2 separate regions of the Homo sapiens genome follow, and region 1 is linked to region 2. The links come from fine-mapping of genetic effects on gene expression. A gene starts in region 2. The other region holds a variant in brackets. All regions are shown on one strand. Distances are from middle to middle. Region 1 has its middle 320 kb from the start of LINC01440. Region 2 holds the start of CYP24A1 (cytochrome P450 family 24 subfamily A member 1).

The links. PIP is the estimated chance that this variant, and not a neighbour inherited with it, causes the effect.
Region 1: its variant is fine-mapped to the expression of CYP24A1 in whole blood (TOPMed, PIP 0.94).

Annotation. Positions count from the first base shown.
Region 1 is chr20:55,104,480-55,107,382 of GRCh38, forward strand. No RefSeq gene overlaps it. Among named protein-coding and RNA genes, the nearest start is that of LINC01440, 320 kb to the right of the region's middle. The variant G/A (reference allele first, on the strand shown) is at 1,526.
Region 2 is chr20:54,172,530-54,175,432 of GRCh38, forward strand. CYP24A1 (cytochrome P450 family 24 subfamily A member 1) reads right to left here and starts at 1,457. Exons shown (of 12, transcript NM_000782.5): 1 at 793-1,457; 2 at 380-570. The coding sequence starts at 1,050. RefSeq lists an enhancer at 1,087-1,680.

The DNA of each region.
Region 1 (2,903 bases), 930 kb after region 2:
TTGGCATTTCTAGGTTGCTGGTTCTTCAGCCTCAAGCATGGGATACATGAAGCAAAAGGAACACCCAGAGAATTAATTACCATGTTTTTCTGTGGGTACCCAGGTCACTAGCAGGTCTGCCTTCTCTCTGCCTTTCAGGGTCTTCTTAGGTTTATTTTGTAAACAGTACCCTAGGTTTTTAGTTTCACTTAGTGGAACATATAGGGGAAAAAACATCTATTCCATCTTCCCAGAAGGAGAAGTCCCAGAATATTTTTGTAACCTAATATTGGAAATGACATTCATCACTTTTGCTCCATTCTGTTATTTGGAAGTAAGTCACGGGCTACAGCTTACACTCAAGGGATAGTTTACCACAAGTATATAGGGGCACAAGTTCCAGAAGGTGAGGGTCATTGAGCAGTCTCAGAGGTTGCCTGTTGCAGGTTTGCATGTGTTCAGCTGAGTGGATATTGTGTGTAATTTCCTCAAAGTTTGTGCTAATTTCTATTAATTAGCTGGAGAATAAAAGATTGAAGCTGGCCAGGATTTATATTAATTAGCCAGACAATAAAAGTTTGAAGCTGTCCAGGATTGGTTCTTGAGGTTTCAGGAAAGAAGCCATCTCCAAAACATGATAGTGCAAGGTGATGCAGCAAGTATTGACGGAGAAGCTGCAGCAAGTTATTCAGAAGCTCTAGCTAAGATCATTAATGAAGGTGGCAACACTAAACAGCAGATTTTCCATGTAAATCAAACAACCTTATAGTGGAAGAAGATGCCACTGAGAACTCATTACAGAACTATTGTGTTCCTTTGAAGGTGTCAGTGTTTCCATGCTTTTCCATGTTCCCTGTGTCCTTGCATTGGTATCTGCACATCTGGTGTAACTGGTATGATTTGGCTGCATCCCCAGCCAAATCTCATCTTGAACTGTAGCTCCCATAATCCCCACATGTTGTGGGAAGGACCTGGTGGGAGGTAACTGAATCATGAGGGCAGATTTTCCCGTTTTGTTCTCGTGATAGAGAATAAGTCTCACAAGATCTGATGGTTTTACAAAGGGCAGTTCCCCTGCACATGCTCTCTTGCCTGCTGCCATGTAAGACCTGCTTTTGCTCCTCCTTCACCTTCCACCATGATTGTGAGGCCTCCCTAGCCAAGTGGAGTTGCAAGTCCATTAATCTCTTTTTCTTTATAAATTCCTAAGTCTCAGGGTATTTTTACATAGCAGTATGAAAATGGACTAATATGCTGTCACTTCTTTCAATTTGATATTATAGCTTCCATGGGGAAAGTCTCTCTTTTGGATGAACCTATAATGTTGATTTGGTAAGGTGCTTTGCTTTGGTACTGGTTGGGCCCCACAGTATAGTCTCCTTATGATTACTTTGGTTGTACTCATTGTTAACAGTGTCTGCAAGTTCCTTAGTAGCTTAGGCTTCTATTGTTTATGGAGGCCGTGGTGAGTCTTTTCAGGGGACAGGGTTGCAGAGCAGGCCAGTTTTCAGTCCCCAGGTAGGGAGTTTGGGTACAGGTGGTAGTG[G/A]TGGTGGTGGTGGTGGTGGTTGCAGGCCAGGTGTTACAGTCCTGGGGTCCCTGGAAGGCAGCATGCATGGGCTCCAGCAGTGTCCTTGGTGGAGCAGGCAGGCTGGCTCCCTGGTCCCTGGCTGTAGGTAACGAGTGAGTAGTGGCCCAGCTGCTGGAGGTGATGGGGTAGCTGCTGTAGTGGTAACAGTGGATGGGCTGCTCTCAGGCTGGGGAGCACACACTTTGTTCCCTGTGTCCTGGGGGCACCTCCCTGATATGCTAAACCACTTGCTTACTGGCACATAGGCAACAGCATGGGCTCTGCTGCCAATATCTGGACAGTACCACTGGGTCCAGCCAGCGGCGCTCTGCAGCCCTAAGAGTGGAGGTAGAGAGTGTTGTGAGGCCCCAGGGATGTGGAAAGCAGGGGCTTTTGGGCCCCAAGGCAGGATGTAGTTCACTGTTGGATCTGCTGTCAAAATAACGCTGTGTTGCTCTCTCTGGAGCAATGCAGTCACGTGGACTCCCGACATCCCACTATACTGGGCTCAGGGTCCCTGGCACCCAGGGAATTTCCTGCAGCTAGGACTGTGGGAATCTGCAGCAGGAATGTGCACTGCTGAGGATCTTTCACTTACCCCTCCCATGAAATAGGGAGCCTCTTCCTTCCCAAATCAATCTGGTCAGCTGCCTCACTGGGTCTGAAAGCCACAGAAATGTCCCTTACCTACTGGATTCCAGCATTCTCTCGAAATGTCCTACTGGATGTACCTTTGTCTACTTACTGTTTTAGTCTCTCTTTGTGCAGGAGTCAAGCACTGAGAGCCTCTGTTTCACCATCTTGATGATGTCTTGCAATTTAGCAATTTTATTGATCTTTTCAAGGAAACAGTTTTTGTTTCTGTTAATATTCTCTATTGGTTTCCTATTTTCTATTTCATCACTTTCTGCTCCAATTTTTGTTATTTATTTTCTTCTGTTTGCTTTAGGTTTATATTACTCTTCTTTCTCTACTATCCTTAGACGGAAGCCTAGATTATTGATTTTAGACCTTTCTTTTTTTCAATATATGCATTCAAGATAAATGAATTTCCACCTAAATTTCCACCTAAGCACTGCCCCCCCTTTTTTTTTTTTTTTTTTGTATGACACTCACTCGGGTAAGTTGTATTTTTATTTTCATTTAGTTCAACATATATATTTCCCTTGAGACCCTTCTTTGACCCATGTGTTGTTTAGTAGTTACTTATTCTCCAACTATTTGCAGTTTTCCAGCTATCTTTTTGTTGATACATAATTTAATTCCATTGTTGTCTTAGGGTATGTTTGGTATGATTTCCATTAAAGAAAATTGTTTTGATGTGGCTCATGGCCTTGAATGTGATCTGTTTTGGTGA
Region 2 (2,903 bases):
CAGGGAGTTTTAAGGGATAATTTTGTTTGTATAAGATGTTTGCCTGGTACGCTGACTTCAGAACCTCATCCTGCCCAAGAGTCTGAACACCACAGTTGGTACAACCCTGTTTTGGCGTTTCTTTGATGGGAGGGTGTGGCCCTGCCCTGTTGCCAGAGAGAACGCAGGTGCTGGGTGCACAGCACGGCTTTTCCGTGGACCGACTCTAATCTGTACAAGAGCTCAGGGTTGCGATGGCACGGGAGAGGGGCTTTGGTATCCGCCCTACGTAAGAAGCTTCCAACCCCAGGGAACTCTAACTCCGCCTCTTCACAATTTCCAGGCGCCGTCAGGCTCATCAGGTCTGGCCGCATGCCCAGGTCCCTCGGATTGGACTCACAGGATCAGCAGCCCGTAGCCTTCTTTGCGGTAGTCGCGATAGGCCTTCCACGGTTTGATCTCCAGCCGCTGCGGGTACGCGCTCTCGGTGCGGTACAGCGCTTCCAGCAGGCATGGCGAGCCCAGGTGCACCGACTCAAAGGAACCCAACTTCATGCGGAAAATCTTGCCATACTTCTTGTGGTACTCCACCTGCAGCCGGCCGGGCACAGCGCGGTGTCAGCGCGCATCCTCCGCCGTGCCCGAAGCGCTTTCCCTCCTCCCGCCTCCTTCCTCCTAGGGGACCGGGGACCCTCCCTGCCCAGACGCCGAAGCGCACCATGCGCCCGAGGCGCGCATGTCGGGGAGGGTTTGGAGCGCCACTGGGAGGGCGGAAGAGGGAGGAGAGAGTCAGGGGCGCGAAAAGGGGTTTACCAGGGTGTCGTGCTGTTTCTTGAGACCCCCTTTCCAGAGAATCTGCAGCAGGCTGCCCAGCAGTGGCCAGCTGGTGGGGCCCGGCAGGGCGGCCGCGTTCTGAGTCTCGCCACCAGCTGTCAGCGGGCAGACTGGCACCTCTCGCGGCTGAGGGGACGTGTACGCCGTAGATGTCACCAGTCTCGGGGGCTGCCTCGGACTGCGCAGCTGCTGCAGGAAGGCGGCAAGCGAGCGGCTCTTGCTGATGGGGGAGCTCATGGCAGCGGGGGACACCGGAGCGCGGGAAGGCAGGAGGATGGGGTGGGGCGAGGTTGGTACGAGGTGCTAGTGGGAGTCGGGGCTTAACGATTCTGGGAAAAGGAAGCAAAGAGGGCCAGCTGGTGTGATGGAGCGGGGTGAGGCGGGACAGGCAGCAGAAAGGACCTCGGCGAGGATGCTCGACGCTGCACCACGCGACAGCCTCAGAGCATTGGTGCCTCCTTGCACTGGCCGCAGGGGCTGGAAGAGGGTGGCCGGTGTCTGGGGACCTCTTGAAAAGGGAAAGCTGGGAGTCCTCCTGTTGGTCCGCAAGGCTGACCTCTAGGGTCTGGCTGGAGCCACGGGGAGGTGTCAAGGAGGGTAGATGAGATGCTGCTGGCGCTGCGTTTCCTCCTGTCCCTCTCCATGTTCCTATGCCCAGGGACCATGCATTTATGGAGACAGAGCATGCCCTGGGTGGCCAATGAGCACGCAGAGGAGGGCGGAGTGGCCCCCGGCTGGCCAGACTCCGAGGGACGCGGGACCCAGGGGAGGGGGGGTGGAAGGAGGATGGAGTCAGCGAGGTGAGCGAGGGCGTCCGGGCCTGGGGTGACCGGGGCTATGTTCGCTGGGCGCGGGAGGTGGGGTGGGGGCGGCAGACTCCACCCCGGAGATAACCCCCAGGAAGTCATGCGAAGCCCGGAGTTCACCGGGTGTGCTTCGAACGCGCCTCCCCGCCCTCCCCCGGCGGGCAGGAGCCGGCAGCGGCGGCCGTGGTTGCCGCCCGGCGCTTGCACAATCGCGATGCCGGGCGGGCGAGGTCCCCGAGTGCGGGCCCAGAAAAGCTGCCGGCGTCTGCCAGGGCCCCGGGGAGCCCGGGCGCCTCCCGGGGAGCCAGATACCCCCAGCCTGGACTGAAGTGATTTTTTTTTTTTTTTTGCCTTTTTTTTTTTGGAGGAAGTTTGGCTTTCTGCGCCTCCCAGGGTGGGGAGGATTTGAGTCTTACTGAAATGCACCAGAAGAGGAGACTTTCTTAACTTGAGCAAGAAGGGGAGTTTGTAGAATTTCCTTCCTGCTGTTTCATGTTTGGTTGTTTTGCAGATTAAATGAATTAATGCACGTAAAGCGGCAACAACGAAGCCTTGTCTATAGTCAACAGTCAATAAAAGTTAGTTGCTGTTGTTACTTCTTTAGGAAGTTAGGAAATGCGCCTTGAGAGCGTGGCTTGCACCAACGATGCTTGAATTCAGGCTGGGCCACCTCCCCTATGTCCACTGCCCGCCTCTGTTCTTCTACACCGACTACCTTGTGCAAAGGAGGGGCACACAGAGCTTGAAACCACCGCCCCCAGTACTCCCCCTCTCCCCCAAGGTGCGTCCTAGGCAGGTCCAGTGACAAACATACACAATTTCTAGAGTTACCGCGGCTGGCAAGAGTAGAACTCGCTTTGCTAATTCAGGAACGGAAGTTGGAGATTTTTGTTGATTGTTTTAAAGTGGCTCGAATCCTTTCAACCTGATCCAATACAAAACTACCACCAGCCAGGGAGGAGGGGAGGGACATTCTGTTTCCTCGCCCTGCTTTTCAATTACGTGTCTCAGTCATTTTTGCCCCAAGTGTTGGCAAATCCTTCCCTGGTAAATTCTTTTGTAAGCCTCTAGTTTGTTTCTTAAAAATCTTTTGCAGTCCAACTTAAGCTTTAACACCATCATTTCTGATTTGTCTGGAGGGGCTAATGACTGTTTATGTTAATAAAAATAATAGCTATTGATATATACTAAACTTTATGAATCTTGTACATATTTATATATACATTGTATGGTATATATGTTACAGCATACACTATAGATTATGTTATATGCAATACACACTAA